Regions from separate parts of the Homo sapiens genome. Here region 1 is linked to region 2. Evidence: fine-mapped expression QTL. Tissue or cell type: whole blood. Region 2 holds a variant in brackets; the other region holds the start of a gene. All regions are shown on one strand. Distances are between the middles of the regions.

Region 1 (8,220 bases), 35 kb before region 2:
ATTTATTCAGTTATCTCACTACTAGTGGGCACTTGCTTTGCTCCCAGTTCTTTTTGCCCCATCCTGTTCATATACACTTATATACATTTATATAGGATAGAATCCTAGGAGCAGGATTTTTGTCTCAAATAGTAGCTTTTTATTTTAACAGATTTTTTTTCTGGACAGCTTTCAAAAAAGGCTGTAGCAATTCACATATCCATCAGCAAAGGATAAGATCGCCCTTTCCCCCACAATCTTAAATAGTCTCAAGGAGCCAGCAAGAATCAGGGGTTCTCCAAGGAGAGGGGAAAGTCTATGAGATTCCTTACTCAGCAATAAATGAGCTAACAGTGAATTATTCCTCAATAGAAAGGCCCCTTTCTATTCATCTTTGGATCTTTTTAGCCAAATAGGCCTCACACAGAACCAAAGCCCAGAACAACCCAAAACAGGGTCTGAAGTCCAGAACAACCCAAAACAAAGTCCAGAACAAGCCAAACAGGATCTGAAGACAGTTGTCTCTAACTCACTCCTCCCCACTTCATGAATCCCCGTGAGTTCTTTCCCACTGGATAGTACTTGCATATTACACAATCAGCTGCATCTAGCATCTGCTCTTAATTTCATTTGATATTTTATCATCTCAGTTAAGATTCTGGGAAAAAGAAGTTGCCTTCTTTTTGAAAGGGATTGAAAGAAACTAGGAAACTTGGCAGGAAGATCATTCTTAAGCCAGGAAAAAAATTTTTAATGCTCACATGTGAACATGTGATGGTCATACCAGAAGGAGCACCCACCTCCCTCCCTCTGTGACAGACACATTTTCTTAGCCTTCACCTTTCCTTCTTTCAAGTTGCTGAAAATCCACAGTGTTTCTGTTCATTTGTTACTTTCATTCTCACCTATCTTCTCTCTTGCTCCATCTACCAGAACAATAATTCCCCATATAATACTTCTCACTTCACTTTTCAACGCAGGACCTCTTGTTGGGTAAGCTAAAAGGATATGTGCTCTGTAAATAAGAAAAATCTTTATTCAAAGAATCTATCAAATGTTCCCATGACTCCATCTCTATTTGTATATCTAAAGATTGCATAGTAGAGAAAAACAAAAGATTAGCCCTGCTTCATCTTACAGCTGGGAGAGTCATGAAAGGCCAAATGGGTAACAAAGCTCCTGGTTTTGACCAAGCCTAGCCAAAGAAGCTACTCAAATGTCAAAGGCATTGTTTGTATAAAAAGGGAACCAAAGTACAGGTTCCCTTTACAGTAGAAATAAGAGAACTCCCTGTTGACAAAGGGAGGAGGAAGAAAATATAAAGTACACTTTTAAAACATGAAGTCTTCATAGCAGCTTATAGTCGTTCAGAGAAACATGTTCCACTGAGAATGACTTGAGAGAGAGGATTACATCATTATGCCAGAAGGAAGAAGCCACTGTGCATGCTCTATCACCAGCCTCACCCTCCTGGTCAGCCTTACAAGAGTGACACTGGATATACTCCAGAAGTTGGACCCACCACAGCCTGCACACTGGAGTAAGTGCTTTCCTCCAGTTGAAGCTCATCTTAGAATGATCTGTGACTTAGACCATCCCCAGAATGGTGTAGTTGCAGGAAGCCTAACGTATGTCTCCTGAGACAGCCTCAGATCTGAGTTTCCTCCTTATGTTTTGGTATTTGGAAAGGGGTGGAGAAGATACTCTTGGGTAGAAGTATGGGAGGCATACAGATTCAGAAGAAAAAGGATAACTCTATCTTTAGTGTGTTGTCTGTGGTGGCATCTAGCCTTACCACTGTATACTTACATTCCACCTACAAACATTAAAATAAAATGCACAGTGCACTCCTTTGTTTTAAAAAGGAACTAGGAAAAAACTCAAATGGCAATTTGGTTCCAGATTTTTTTTTTAATGTGATCTTTGATCTGAAGTCAATGTAGGATGAGTTCTGAACAAAGTAGCACTTTCAAAGGTTGTATATTAAAGAGGTGAAATGAAAGACAACTTGGCACTTGAGATATGAATTTGAATGTGTATATGGTTACAGTCTGGATAAGACACTGCTAACATGACTTCATTAACTGATCGCCTATGTGGGACCATTGGACAAGGAGAGGGGGTGTTCTGGCTGTGGTGCCATATACTGAAACTGAACCCATGAGTTGGGCCCACAGGAATTGAGGGACAAGCCAGATAGATGGCAAGAATTCTAATTTCCAATATGCAAATCAGTCTAAACATTTGACTTTTTTTAAGTCTATTTGGAAAGTTTTTGAAACACGGCTGCACTAGGCGAGTTCATTAAGTAGCAAAATTTTAACTATTGTTATAACTTTTTCTTTGCCCTTTTCAGTTAACACTGCATGACCACCCAGGTGCATGAGGCTCTCTTCTCCTCTTAGTGACAATAACAGGCTCACAGGAAGGGTTCAGTATTAATTATTTATACCTTACTTCATGTGGCTCTAAGTCAATGTATTGTCTATGAGGTTTTATATTTAAGCCATACTTATGAAATGCTAAAGAGGAAAAAGCATATTTAGCACATTTGGGGCACCCTAAATGTGAACCTGAGTAAATTTCAGTTTGTTTGTTTGTTTGTTTTTGTTTGTTTTGAGACGGAGTCTCACGCTGTTACCCAGGCTGGAGGGCAATGGCGCGATCTTGGCTCACACGCAACTTGGCCTCCCAGATTCAAGAGATTCTGTCTTAGCTTACCAAGTTGCTGGGATTACAGGTGCCCACCACCATGCCTGGCTAATTTTTTGTATTTTTAGTAGAGATGGGGTTTCACGATGTTGGCCAGGCTAGTCTCAAACTTCTGACCTCAAGTGATCCGCCCGCTTTGGCCTCCCAAAGTGGGTTTGTTGTTCTTTTAAAGAAAAAAGACCACTACTTATTTTAAAGGGTGATAGCAGTGTCCTGACTCTACCTAGACAGATATGTTCATTCATGTGCTCATTCCAGTTGAACCATAATAACTGCAATTTTCAAAGGAGGAATACAGAGTCTGGGAAATCAGAAGAGTATAGCAACAAACTGGTATACGAGGAAACTGAAAATGAAAAATCAGCAAAGTGGTATTTGTACCTGCCTGAGTGGCTACAGTGGTGAAGGTGAAGGGTGGCAGGCTAGATTAGCACCATCTCCTCCCCTCCTCGCCTGCGGCCTCAGTACTTTCCACTGTGGTCCCAGGATACGCCAGGTCAACTGTGATCAACTCTGACACAGACAAACTCTGGGAGGGGAGGAGGCATCCTTTCCTATTCTCAGCGGTCTCAGTTCCAGAGACCACTTTAGTAAGCTCTCCTTGTCATACCTTAAAACATAAATTAAGACCCATAAGTAATTCCAAAACCTCATTTTATTATGTTGTTTTTATCTCCTTGCTCGCCCATCTTAAAAAAAATGGTAACACCAATCTCAGAGACTGATTTCTCCTACTTATTCTCTTAGGAGGGAAGGAGTGTTAAATAAGCCAAGGCATGCTAACAGGAAGGAAAAAATGGAGATTATGAAGAATAATCACAATTTGAAAACTATTAAAACCACGCACCAGGCAGTTTACAAAATATTTATTTCTTTGTTATATTATTTCTGCTGCTGAATTTGGTCAAGAGATTGTACTAATCATAAAATGAATGTTATTGATCATTTTAAAGTCTCTTCTAAAAGTAGCTAAATTTATACTGCTGATTCCTTTTGAAACATGCGACCTACAGCTTCTTGGCTTTTATGAGCTATTCAAGAGATATTTAGTCATCACGTTGTGTCACAATGGGAGTGACTCACAGAGCAAGGAGAGAACCTGAGGATTCCTCACACATGTAGTACTCAGAGCTCTACGGAAACCCAGGCACCTCGACCTCAAGAGGATCAGCCTGGCCAGGGTGGCACAACTCTTCCTTCCCCGTGCACAGCAGGAAAGCTGCCATCAGCTGAGCAAGTCCACCAACAGTTTCTGTGTCCCACTTCATCTTTAATAAGGTAACTGATGACAGTTTTGTCATTTATTCTTTTATTTATCAAGTCAATCTAAACTTTCTTTGATTTTCCTCACTCTTGCAGAATGAATCGGTGGTCTTTCAAGCTGTGGTCAATGTTGCTACTTCTTTTAATGTAACACATTAGAACCCAGTGATGGGAGCTGGGTCCATCTCACCATAGAAATGACCTCGGTGTGACCTGGGATCTTGCCTTGAACTCCTCCAGGACTCTCTTTGAATGTCCTTTAGCACCCTAGTGTCCCAATTCAATTCATATTTTATTTTCTCTGTGCCTTCTTGACACTATCTGTGAATCTTATGATTAATTGGAAACTGGAGGGGGAAGTCTCCAAAAAGCACAGGATTCTTAGATGAGTTTCTTACTGAAGCAGCAGATTCTCTGTCAACTGCAGGTCTGATCTGTTTGTCTGTCCGCTTTATCAATATTATCAGATGTAAGTTTACATGAATACACACACATATTCACTAAACTGAGGGGAAAAAATGCCTTGTAGGTCATAAAAAAGCAGGGAAATTCCCAACAATTCATATTTGATCCCTGGATCCAGGGGTGGCAGCAATAAGCCTGCTTTAGATATTTACTCCCCATTTTATGATCCGGTGGTTTGGTTTTTCAAATGATGATATGGCTCCTTTCGCAATGACTTGATGTTTAGGAGGTGTGCTTCAATAAATACATTTTAAAATCAACAATCAAGTTAGAGTTGTACAAATGGCTCTGAAATGTCCCACTACACTGTTAGACCAAGGGCACAGATTGTGCTTCTGTACTATTTATCCTAGTATCCCTCGGCATATATTAACTGCTCTAAAAATCTCCTTGGCTACACGCTGCATCAAATCAAAGTTAAATGTTATACCACCTTTCTATTCTATTTTTAATATTCAAAGAGGGTGCTCAGATTTTAGAACAAATTTCAATGTTTAAGTACACACAAAAAAATCATTAACTCATATATTTCAAGAGTAGGAAATGGGAACTGGTGTTAAAACTCTTATAACAAATGTCACTGTCTTAAGGGACAGTGTTTAAAAACGCATACCTGGCCGGGCGCGGTGGCTCATGCCTGTAATCCCAGCACTTTGGGAGGCCGAGGCCGGCGGATCACAAGGTCAGGAGATCGAGACCATCCTGGCTAACACGGTGAAACCTGGTCTCTACTAAAAATACAAAAAATTAGCTAGGCGTGGCAGCGTGCGCCTGTAGTCCCAGCTACTTGGGAGGCTGAGGCAGGAGAATGGTGTGAACCCGGGAGGTGGAGCTTGCAGTGAGCTGAGATCACGCCACTGCACTCCAGCCTGGGCGACAGAGCGAGACTCCGTCTCAAAAAAAAAAAACAACAACAACAAAAAACTCAGACCTTTTCTTCTGCTCAAAGATCACTGTGGCTGAAATATACTGAAGTTTTAAACACACTTTTGGAACCTATACATATGTTCTATGTTCTAAGCTTTCCTTAAAGCCTTGTGACTACAAATGATAACTGTACACAACATATAATCTTTCCCAGATAGCAATTGTTATGCAGTGACCATAAATAAAGTAATCATAGCTTTAACAATAATTTGTAACCTGCTAATACTGTCAGGAAACATTGTCAAAATAATAAACCTAGGAGGGACTTGGGATAATTAATGAATAGTTAGGGATGTGATGGTGAATTATAATTTAAACGTTTTGAAGGAAGGCAAAAGAAAATCAGAGATGCTTTTATCCTTAGAACTAAAAATGCAAAATGTAAATCCAGCAGATCTTCCCTATTTGAGGCAGTTGGTACACCTCTGCTAGGAGGGAGGGAAGCTACATCCTGAGGAGGCTGTCTGAGTGAATCTGTAGTGGAAGTACACACGAACTCCATGCCTCGCTGTCCCAGTACCCAAAGCACAGTCTGGCTGCCAAGGATTACCTCCTGCCCTCAGGGAAGCAGGAATCAAGGGCAAATGTAACTAACCAGAGGAGGAGCTTCTTCATCCATTGAGTAAGGGAACTTACCCTCCCACGACGATAAATACCAACTCAACTATATCATCAGCAGCATAATAATTATTATAATTGTTATTTCAGTCAGACTCTCAAAAAAGCATTCGTTGCTTAATGCAAGCACATTTAATGTAGGGTCCCTTGGTGCCATTAAAAAATTTTTTTTTCAGATTTCTGGGTGGACCATTTGAACACATTTCTCACAGAAACATAATTTTTTAGTTTATGTCAATAGGTTCCAGTGTTCATTTTTTTTTAAGTGTGGAAGAAATCTCTAAAAGCCACCTGGGTTTTTTTTTTTTTTTTAAACAAAACAAAACAAAAACCAGTTTTTTTTTACTTCAATGAAAAGGAAAAAATGAAAAAGGAATGTTGTGTTAAGTCAACCGGGTTTACAATATTCAAATATACAAGAGGCATACATGTTCAGTGGCTTTCAGTATTCAGAAAGCCATGCAAGAGAACTCCAAAAAGAGAATACTTTAGAAAATCATTGCTCAATGTTTTCTATTTGATGTATTTTGGTAAACAACATAGTTGTTGATTCAACTTGGGCCACAATTGCAACACATTGGAAGTAAATAAAGATTCTACAAACTCCTGACAGTGTGGTTGACTAGCTTTGGTATCGCTTTCTAAAAGGAAACACTTCATGAAGTTATGTGGAAATAAAATCAACTGGTCTGGGAGGAACTATCTAGAAAGAACTCTACATTGCTTATAAAAAGTATACCTCACAATAATATTGAGATATTTTCTGTTCTTTTTTTTAAACTGTGTCATTTATTTTTAAGAAACAGAGGAAGGTGAATAAGAGAAGTGAAATTAAATAATCCTATTTTAACTTTTTTACTAGGAAAACAAACTCAGGAAGAAAAAGAAAAGCAGAAGTGATCAAGGAGAGCGCTCGAGTTGCAATATTTTCCTTTGGCTGCTGACAGGCAGTTACTATAAAGCATTGTGCATGGTGTATGAAAGACAAAACTAGTTCTCCTTTCTTGGTTTCTTTTGAATCTTTGTGATATGGTAGAGAAAGTTTGATAAAGTGTTCTTGTGCCTGCTGTCGACTGATAATGTGTTCATCTCTTTGCAGTTCTTCCTTCTCTTTCACACAGTTTAGAGTTCAGAGAGTTTTAGTTCTGGTCACTCTCTGGCAAGTGACCATAGTTATGACCTCTACTCTACACCAGAAATATCTTGACAATTACATGAGATAAATATTACATAAACACTTCCCAAAACTTTGTAATGTTATCAAAATTGGAAGTGTGAATATTATGTATTATTATAATTGCTATCATCCTTTTGCCCCAGCGATTCAGAGGTCTCAAAGATTAATCCAATTATCACTAGAACTCTGGAGCTACAGTGGAGACTTCCTTCTTTCCTTCCTTTTTTCCTTCTTTGCTGTACAACATTTACTAAACATCAACATAATGCCAAGTATCATACAAGGAACTGGTAATGTAGAGAAGTATATGCAGAGCCCAGAGTTGAGTGGGAATACAGACTGCAGTGGTAGAACAGAATGGTCTGGGTATCAGTCCCGGAATTGCCACTACAACTGTAGCTGGAGCCAATTAAACAGAGCTTCTGAATGTGTTTCCTCCTCTATACAGTGAAGATAATTTTGTCGTAAGGTGTAAATAAGATAAATATTTATAGATCCTAGGAAACGGCCTACAACATGTTAGGCACTCAATGAACCATAGCAGTTATTATCATTCCTCCCTGACTTGGTCAACCAGGAACTTGAGAATCATAGATTTGCTAGGAGGATATTTTGAATTCTGTAGGGTCAGTTGGCCACCCACCAAAGGGTACCCCCAGAGGAGCTGGGGGTCAACAGCATGGGGTAAACCTTGAGGGAGGGAACAGATGGGAGGTGATTGGATGAAGAGATTTGGGTGAGGACACAGAGCCAAACCATATCAGCCTCTTATCCTCCTGATGACAAAAAGACATTTTAAAATATTTATATAGAGGGAAATTAATGCTTGCAGCAGCAGGATATGAGTAATTTTTATAAGTAACCCAACTTTTCCATGAGGCCATTAAAAAAAGAAACTCATCAATGTGATACTACCAAGGAACCAATGACTAAGTTTCCAGAAAAGTAGTTCTAGTGCTATGATATTCTGGACTCCCAACACTAGGAAGTTCTAGAACAGTGGTTCTAAACTGGGGGATATTTTGTCCTCCAGGGGACATTTGGCATTATCTGGAGACATTTTTGGTTTTCACAACTTG
Region 2 (8,220 bases):
TCTCCTGAACTGCTCCATTTTACTTCCTTTTGAGAAACTGGAAACAGAAAGTATTCTGCTATGAATACATAGTTTAAGTTCTGGGCAAAAACCATCTATCCCCGTATGTAGATAAAATATTTACTTACTGTGTTCTGGGTCTGTTTTCTCCTAGGTATGGCAACCGTAACTTGAGTATAATGCCACCCAATTAATGTTGATGCCTGAATTATGAACCAGGTAATCCAAACAACCTGACTTGCCATGGGCATAATAGGAGAAATAGTCATAATGATTGCTTAATACTTAAGTATAGGTCAGATTTTAAATACACTTTACTGTCTATTACATGAATGATTTCACGTAACCCTAATCATATCTCACTTACGTGTGTTTTTTAGAGATGGAGAAGTGAAATCACAGAGAGACAAGCAACTTCCTAAGGTTACACTGCTAGTGAGTGTGGGCCAGGGTTCAAGCCCAGGCAGCTTGATGTTGGAGCCGATGCTCAGAACCACCATGCTGTATTATTAAAAAGGATTTGAGGCCAGGCGCGGTGGCTCATGCCTGTAATCCCAGCACTTTGGGAAGCCAAGGTGGGTGGATCACCTGAGGTCAGGAGTTTGAGACCAGCCTGGCCAACATGGCAAAACTCTGTCTTTATTAAAAGTACAAAAATTAGCCAGGCGTGGTGACGGGTGCCTAAAAAAAGAATTTGAGTCTTAGACAGTATTTCCCTAAACTTTGATTCTGGTTCAACAAAAAACAAGACTGTTATTAAATTAATCTAGCATTAGTCTTACCTGGCCAATAACCAATTATGCATAAGAGTGATGCATAATTTTGAGCAATATACAAAGATATACCCCTTTTAGTTTTCCTGTATTCTATTTTCAAAATTTTCTCACTCATGATGACATAATAAAGGCACTTAAACATCATTCCCTAGATCCTTAAAGTTTTCTAACTAGATTTCTGGATTTTCTTTCTTTTTTTCTCTTTTTCAATCTTCTTTCTTCTTTTGTTGTTATGGATTTTGTCCATTTGTTGTTGTTAGTTGTTTCAGGAATTTATTTGCAATCACTTTTTGCTAATTTCAATAAAGGCCTTAGATCAACTGTTCTGACCCAAGATCAACACTACACATCTTCCAGCTTTTAAGATGAGACAAAAGAAAAAGAACAGAAGTCTGGGGTCCCACACATACTATGTTTCCAGATGACTGTATTTTTTTCAACAAATAGTGGGACAAACTATGCTGGTCCTTGTGGCTAGGGCCAGTCCTGGGAACACTAATGAGAGAAATGAGGGGACCTTAGCTGGAATGAGGTCAGGGCCTCCTGGCACTACCACACTGCAATCTCAAAAAAAAAAAAAAAAAAAAACAGTAAGTGGCTGGACTTTCTCATTTGGCTGGAAGAGGTCATATAGCTCATAATCTGTCTCACAGAGACACTTCCACTAAGAACATTCCCAAGATGACAAGTTTCTGCTCCAATACCACTAAAGAATGGACGGTCACCATCTTCCAATTTACCCTGTTGATTAGCTTTAGTTACTAGAACATTCTTTATAATTTTTCACCCAAAATTTCTCAGTGTGGATGAGGGGAGAAATGGCTATTGTTTCTGCTGCCATCATGATGATAATGGTTCACATTCACTGAGCCTTTAAAATGAGCCAGAATCTACCCAGAACACTATCTATGCACTTTCTCATGAAGTCTTTACAACTTTTGCACAACAGGTGCATTTATTGTCCCATTTTACAAATGAGGATTCTAAAATTCAAGATTCTTTCATCTCTAGTAATCTAAGATTCCTAAATGCCCACTTGATAAAATGCTCATTCCCAAAAATAAATATACAAGAAAAGCATAATTAGACAATGGATTTTAAAAGCCAAAATTCTTCATTAAAGTTCTTTCTGAACTCTGGAGCCACTGTAAATGAGAAACTCTAAAGCTCTGGGTGCTGAAAGCAGAAGTCAAGCCTCCTGGCCAGTCATCCCCAAGCACTTTCCCCATGCCTTCAGACCTTGAGAGAAATGATGGACAGTGTGTGCAGGCTCTTTCCACGTTCCTTCCACTCGCTCCAACCCCTGCTGCAAACACCCTTTTAAGAAATTAGACTTTTTTTCGTGAACAGAAATACATGCAGTTACCTTCATGCTTTACAAATGTCAATGCTCATTCTGAATGAAATAAACAAAAGTGTTCTGGTCAGAAAACCCTCCAAGCGCCCAAATGTTCTTTGGACCCCCTCCCAATTGGCCATTCTTTCACCTCCAAGGTGGAATGGAATCTGATCTGAGTCCTGTCCCTGCAAGGAGCATTTTTATCACTGACTTAGATGAAAACAAAGGCAGGTTTTGTTAACTCACCAGGGAAATACATGAGAAGACAGAATCTGGGTCTAAAATGCTGCTATGAGTTCTAACCATGGACTAACAGGATGAAATGGTACAGGGAAAGGTGCAAGGCTCTGTTTTGCTTCCAAAAAAGCAAACATGGGATTCAAAGCCACACTGTGAAAATAATTGAGGTATTTTATGCAAAAATCAGTTCCAAATGAATCAATGATGTAATATGACAGTGTGACTTAACTACTCCCCGCTTACCTCCAAAAGGAAAAAAAGGAAATCATGCTCTGATCTCATCCTAAATTTTAAATTTACAACATATAGAGTAAGGTTGGTAATGGTTATGTCTCCTCCCAGCTGCTCAGGGCTCTGGTAAAACTTGCCTTCACTGTTGGGAACTCTACACTTATAGAGCAACAGACACTTTGGAGTGGGCGGCAGGAGAGCAGATTATCTGAAGTCCAGGTTAGCAGAAGGCGCTGGGCTTGTTTGCTTGGAAGAGACTGAGGGAAGACAGTACGGCCCACTTAAAGGGGCCTCCCTGAGAACAGGAATTAAACTCATATCAGAGGGCACAGAGTGGCAGAGCCAGAGTCATGGGTGGAAGTTACACAGAGTTCAAGTTCAGCACCATAGAGGGGATTTTTGTACCACTAGGAGTTGGATCAAAGGGCAGCTGCCATTGGCAGGCAAGCACAGGAAGGACCACCCTTGGAATGGGGATGCCGGAGAAGGGAGTCAAGCAATATGGGGTTGCATTTGCTGACTTGGATGACATTTGAGGATTCTATGGCTGGACAGGGTCTTTCTTCAAATATGGTACATACCAGCATAAAGAGACCTAACCTTTCTAATCACTAAAACCGTGGGATGTAACAAGCCAAATATCTCTTGCTTCAGTTTTCATGAGGCCTGGAATTTCATTTCTTCAAGACTTGAAAGAAGCGCCTTAGCTTCTGATGAGGAGAAAGGAGGCAGCTGCTGAAAGGAGAGGGAATACACATCAAGATCAACTAAAGCTAAATTTCAGATCTTGCCCAGAAGCAGCCCCGAGGATTAGCACAGCGAAAAGGAGGCTGGAAGGATTCTTGGGGCAACCTGCAACCTGGGCATCCATAGCTAGTTTAATTGTGTGGGGGTGCAGTTGTCAGAAACATGTGCTCACTTCTTAAAACAGGTGTTATTAATGGATCCAGTATAAATTGAACAACAAAACTAGGAAAGAATATACAGTGAAATCTTAGTCTTCCTCTTCCCAGGCCTCTGGTCCCTAGCTAGGACTTTCTCCTGTGTCATTGCTGAGATGCATATATATAGACAATGTATAGATAACCTTTTCACATACTTTTTACACAAACGGTAGCATAGCTAGACTCCACATTTTCTCTACCTTGCTCTAAAACGTTCAAATTTTAATGAACAAAAGACTAGGAATCCTAAAAATAATGTTCACAGTCATCATTTTCAAATCTGGCCCTCCTTAGGCAATAGATGGCTATGATTCCATCAGTTTTACTTCTTCAGTGCCTGACTTAACCAACATATTGTCAACGAAGTAACAAATACAGACAGGCTCTCTAAAAGAAAATGATGTTTATTTGGGAGTAGGGCATTGCAACGGGAATGCAGGTGCCATAGTAAACTATGTGTGCATTCAGGGAGGTAAAAAAAAAAAAAAAAAGACAAGGAGTTTTAAAGGAAAAAATGAGAAGGATACATAATTATTTTGAAATGATTACCTTTGGCTACAAAGATCAATAACAAGGGTGATCAATAACAAGGTCTGCCAGTCTGAGGTTGGGCAGACAGTTCCTGGGAAGATGTCTTTGCAGAAGTATTTTTTGTGTAAGGTTGTGATGGCCTTTGTGCAAGGTTGTGGTTGTTGCAGTCTTTTATGTTAGACTTTTTTAAAATCAGGCATGCAAACATGAGAACTCTCTCTTCACAGCCTTCATAGCTCTATTTGTGAGGGTTTTTTTTTTTTTTTAACACAAGTGACTCCATTTTGGTTGTGACAACTTCACAACATGAAGTCATTCAATATCGATGCTGTTATTCCTTCATTAAATACATCTTGAAGTTAATATTCCCTATGCTCTTGTTTCCTCTCTAATTTATTGCAGCAATTATATTTACCCTGGATAAAATAAGAAAAAAGATAATTGTATTGACTGTAAGCAATTCTTATGAGTGTAATGCCATTTATCAACAATAGCATTTATAAGTGGAATCACCAATCCATTAATAAATCATTCTGAAGGTAAGTTACTCCTCTAAGTAAAGTTAATTAATTATTTCAGGCAACTATTTAGAAAATATGACCTTCCCTTTGCTGATCTAATTCCTGAAGAGTGTTTGATT[T/C]ACTAAGAGTCAGTTCCATGATACCAGCAGTCAAGGCTTCTAAAAGTAAGACATTGATTGAAACTTTCCCTTTATTTATTTCTTAAACCTGTTCTGTTTTTTAAATGAGTACCAGAGATCCACTTACTTGACTATTTGCAAAAAGTAGCAAATGAGGCATTAACAAAGTTGCCCTGTCTGATTCTAAAACCTAAACCTCTTTGACAGTTCGCTGTTAAGTAAACCACTTCCCTGCTGTGAGGAAATGGAGTCATCACACTCATTATTACCTTGAAATGACAGGGGAGCTGTTATGGGTTGAAATATATCACCCCAGCAAAAAATATATGTTGGAGTCCTAACCCCTACTACCTCAGAATGTGACCTTATTTGGAGACAGCCTCTTTACAGAGGTAATCAAGTTAAAATGAGGTCATTAGTGTGGACCCTAATCCAATATGACATATGCCCTTATAAAAAGGAAAATTTGGACACAGACACATAGGGGGAAGATAACATGAAGAGACGCATGAGAAGATAGCCATCTGCAAGCCAAGGACAGAGGCCTGGAACAGATCCTTCCCTCACAGCCCTCAAAGGAACCAACCTGCCAACACCTTGATTTCTGAATTTTAGCTTCCAGGAGTGTGAGACAACATTTTTCTGTTGTTTAAGCCCCACACTCTGTGATCCTTCATTATGGAGCCATGCGATGATGGGGCTATGGCATTGGCTTGGCAGCATGATGGAGTGAAACACTCCTCAGGAGTTCATCTAGCCCATCTTCTTGCCTCTGAGCATCTTTCCTGGATGAGTACTTTAAAAAAATGGTGAGAAATCTGTCTAGAAGTGCCTCATAGGTGGTCAAGAACAGAGACTCTTGGATCGAGCTCCTGGGGTCAAAACCCATCTTTGCCCTTAGCATTGGCTTGACCATTGGCATATTACTTAATTTCTCTTAGTTTTCTCATCTGTATAATGGGGGTGGGTGTACCTTGGACAGTTACAAGAATTAAACAAGTAAATGCATGTCAAATACAGCATAGTGCTTTTAATGTATTGTAGCTATGAGTATTATTCATTTTGTTGGCACTTTTTCAAATTAGCTTAGGTTCATGGCAGAACCTAGCTATAAGTTGGCCCGCACCTTGATCTGTTATTTGAATGGATTGGCCAAGGTCGAAGACAAGGACAAGAGCAACACTCTGACTTTTGTTCTTCCCTATTGTATAAGTTAGGTGTAACGAGAAGAGATCCTCAGCAGAACACTCAGAATGATGAGAGGAGATCTGAGACCTGTGGGGAAAACAACCACAACAAACATCCATTCATCACCATTTTCTCAGCACCATTGTGGGGAGTCCTACCCATGGCTACAGAGGAATGGCCCAAGATGGAAGCCTGGCCTGGCAATGCCTTCAGTTACCAGAAGGATGTTACTATACATAGTGGCAAAGTTGCAAGGCCCTTCAGGTCGCCAACACTCCTCCTAATTTCAAAGAAATTACCAGCAGGTAATTTCAAAGAAAAGGGAATAGAGGCCCTGAAAGGTGAGGAGACTTAAATAATACTATGTCAGATTCAGGACAGAGCAAGAGTTGGATACGAAGAAATGGGCTTCCTCTATTGCGGGAAAGATAAGAGAGTTCAGTTACACAGCAGGAAATCTGACCCCAGAGACTGACCAGAATAGAGAACTAAGGGCATGACACCCTCAGCCCTGTAAAGTTGTAGAAATAAGATGATAATGATGATGATAATGGTTATTACCAAATGTTGAGCAACTGTTCAATAACAGCACTAATTGTGTGTTCATTGGCTAATTGTTAATTAAACTGTGTTAACTGTTTTGCATGCGTGGTTACCTCATTTAATCTTTCTACAACAACCTTGCAAGACTATGAAGAGGAGCAGAGCTCAGATAGGGTATGAAACTTATCCAGAATCTCAGAGCTTAAGGGATAGCAGTTGGGACCACCAACCTCTACTTCAGACAGCCTCCTGCAGGCAGCAACCAGCAACAGATGCCGCTAAGGGCCCTTCTGGCTCTGTGGTTGTATGTTTTTAGAATATCTAAGTCACAGCCATGAGAAGTTTTATCTTTTATCAGTGAAGTCAATTCACTTGGTCATATAGAGTTTTGAACTATGAAAACTATTATTATAAAAAATAATTACCACAATCACTTTGGAGAAAGAACAAGTTCTCATACCAAATCTTTGATGAATTTGCGTCTGATGTTTTCTGTTTTTTTATTTTCTAGAGACAGGTTCTTGCTATGTTGCTTAGGCTGGTCTCTAACTCCTAGGCTCAAGTAATCCTGCCACCTCAGTTTGCAGGCAGCTGGGACTATAGGTATGCACCATCCCCGGCTTGCATCTGGCATTGATTGTTTCTGTGTTACCATAAACTTGCAGAAATACTTGCTTTTCCGCAAGGTAATGATAGCAGCACTTTCCCTTGCACTTTTCTAGCACAGTGTAATGAAATGCAATAGAAACCACAGGAAATACTGTGGTCAGGTTTTGAACCTGAGCTATCACCCTCAACCTGAACACTGTGACAAAGGTACTGTGAATTTTTTTTTAAAAGGGAGGTGACATAGTGAGGAGGTCCTGGTCCTTTTTTAGTGTCAAATCAGCCTGGGCATGATGAGAAACACCATTGGAGGAAGACTGAGGTACCTGACTCATGGCTGTTGGTTACCAATGCCTCCACTTAAACCCAAACTAAGAAAAAAACAGGGGGACCCCACCTAGGAGGCCCTCTCAGCTCCCAGAAGCAGTCTGATGGAGAAGGGATGTGATAGGAGGCCTGCCCTTGTGAGAACTGACATATTTCCTACACTTAGCATTTTATTTGGCTCCAAGTTAGGTGACAAGCAGATCCTAAGTGCCTTCTGTTTTCAAAGCCAAGTAGAGATTGCATAACATCTCTATATCTTATCCCTAGATGGTTAAAGTACCGATTGCTCTCTCATTTCAGCAGGAAGTGAAGTAAGACCACCTACATTTCTGTAAATTGCCAAGGAAGCTTGCAAAAGGTACAGTATGTACCCAAAATAAGTTCATACAGAAAGAAAGTGTGAATGAATAACAGCAGAAAGATATATCCTTTGTTGGATACATTTTATGTAGATATGTGCTATATGCATCATCTAATATAATCTTCTCAACGACCTTATGTGGTAAGTGCCACAATGATGCCTCATTTTACAGATGGAAAAAATAGAGATGTGAGAGAGGTAAGTGTTGTGCCCAAAGACACACAGATGCATATGTACACAGGGGACTAAACTGGGACTCAGCTGTCTGCCTTGTCAGACACTTGTGGGCCTCTCCATCAACCTGTCTCTTCCCACACACAAAGCGACTTTTCAAAATGACCTATTCACATGTTCTAATTCACTTCCCTTTCTTGTAAGCATTTAAGCCTGCAGCAAAAGCAGCTGTCTGTCAACTATTTTCTTTTTTTGGGTAAGCCCACATTTACCTGTGCTACCTATGTTACCAAGAATCCCTCTTTTCTCCTTCCATAGTA

What was found. PIP is the estimated chance that this variant, and not a neighbour inherited with it, causes the effect.
Region 1: DHRS9 starts here. The variant in region 2 is fine-mapped to the expression of DHRS9 in whole blood (INTERVAL, PIP above 0.99).

What each region holds. Positions count from the first base shown.
Region 1 is chr2:169,065,749-169,073,968 of GRCh38, forward strand. It overlaps DHRS9 (dehydrogenase/reductase 9), which reads left to right and starts at 3,815. Exons shown (of 5, transcript NM_001376924.1): 1 at 3,815-3,969.
Region 2 is chr2:169,100,686-169,108,905 of GRCh38, forward strand. No RefSeq gene overlaps it. Among named protein-coding and RNA genes, the nearest start is that of DHRS9, 35 kb to the left of the region's middle. The variant T/C (reference allele first, on the strand shown) is at 4,702.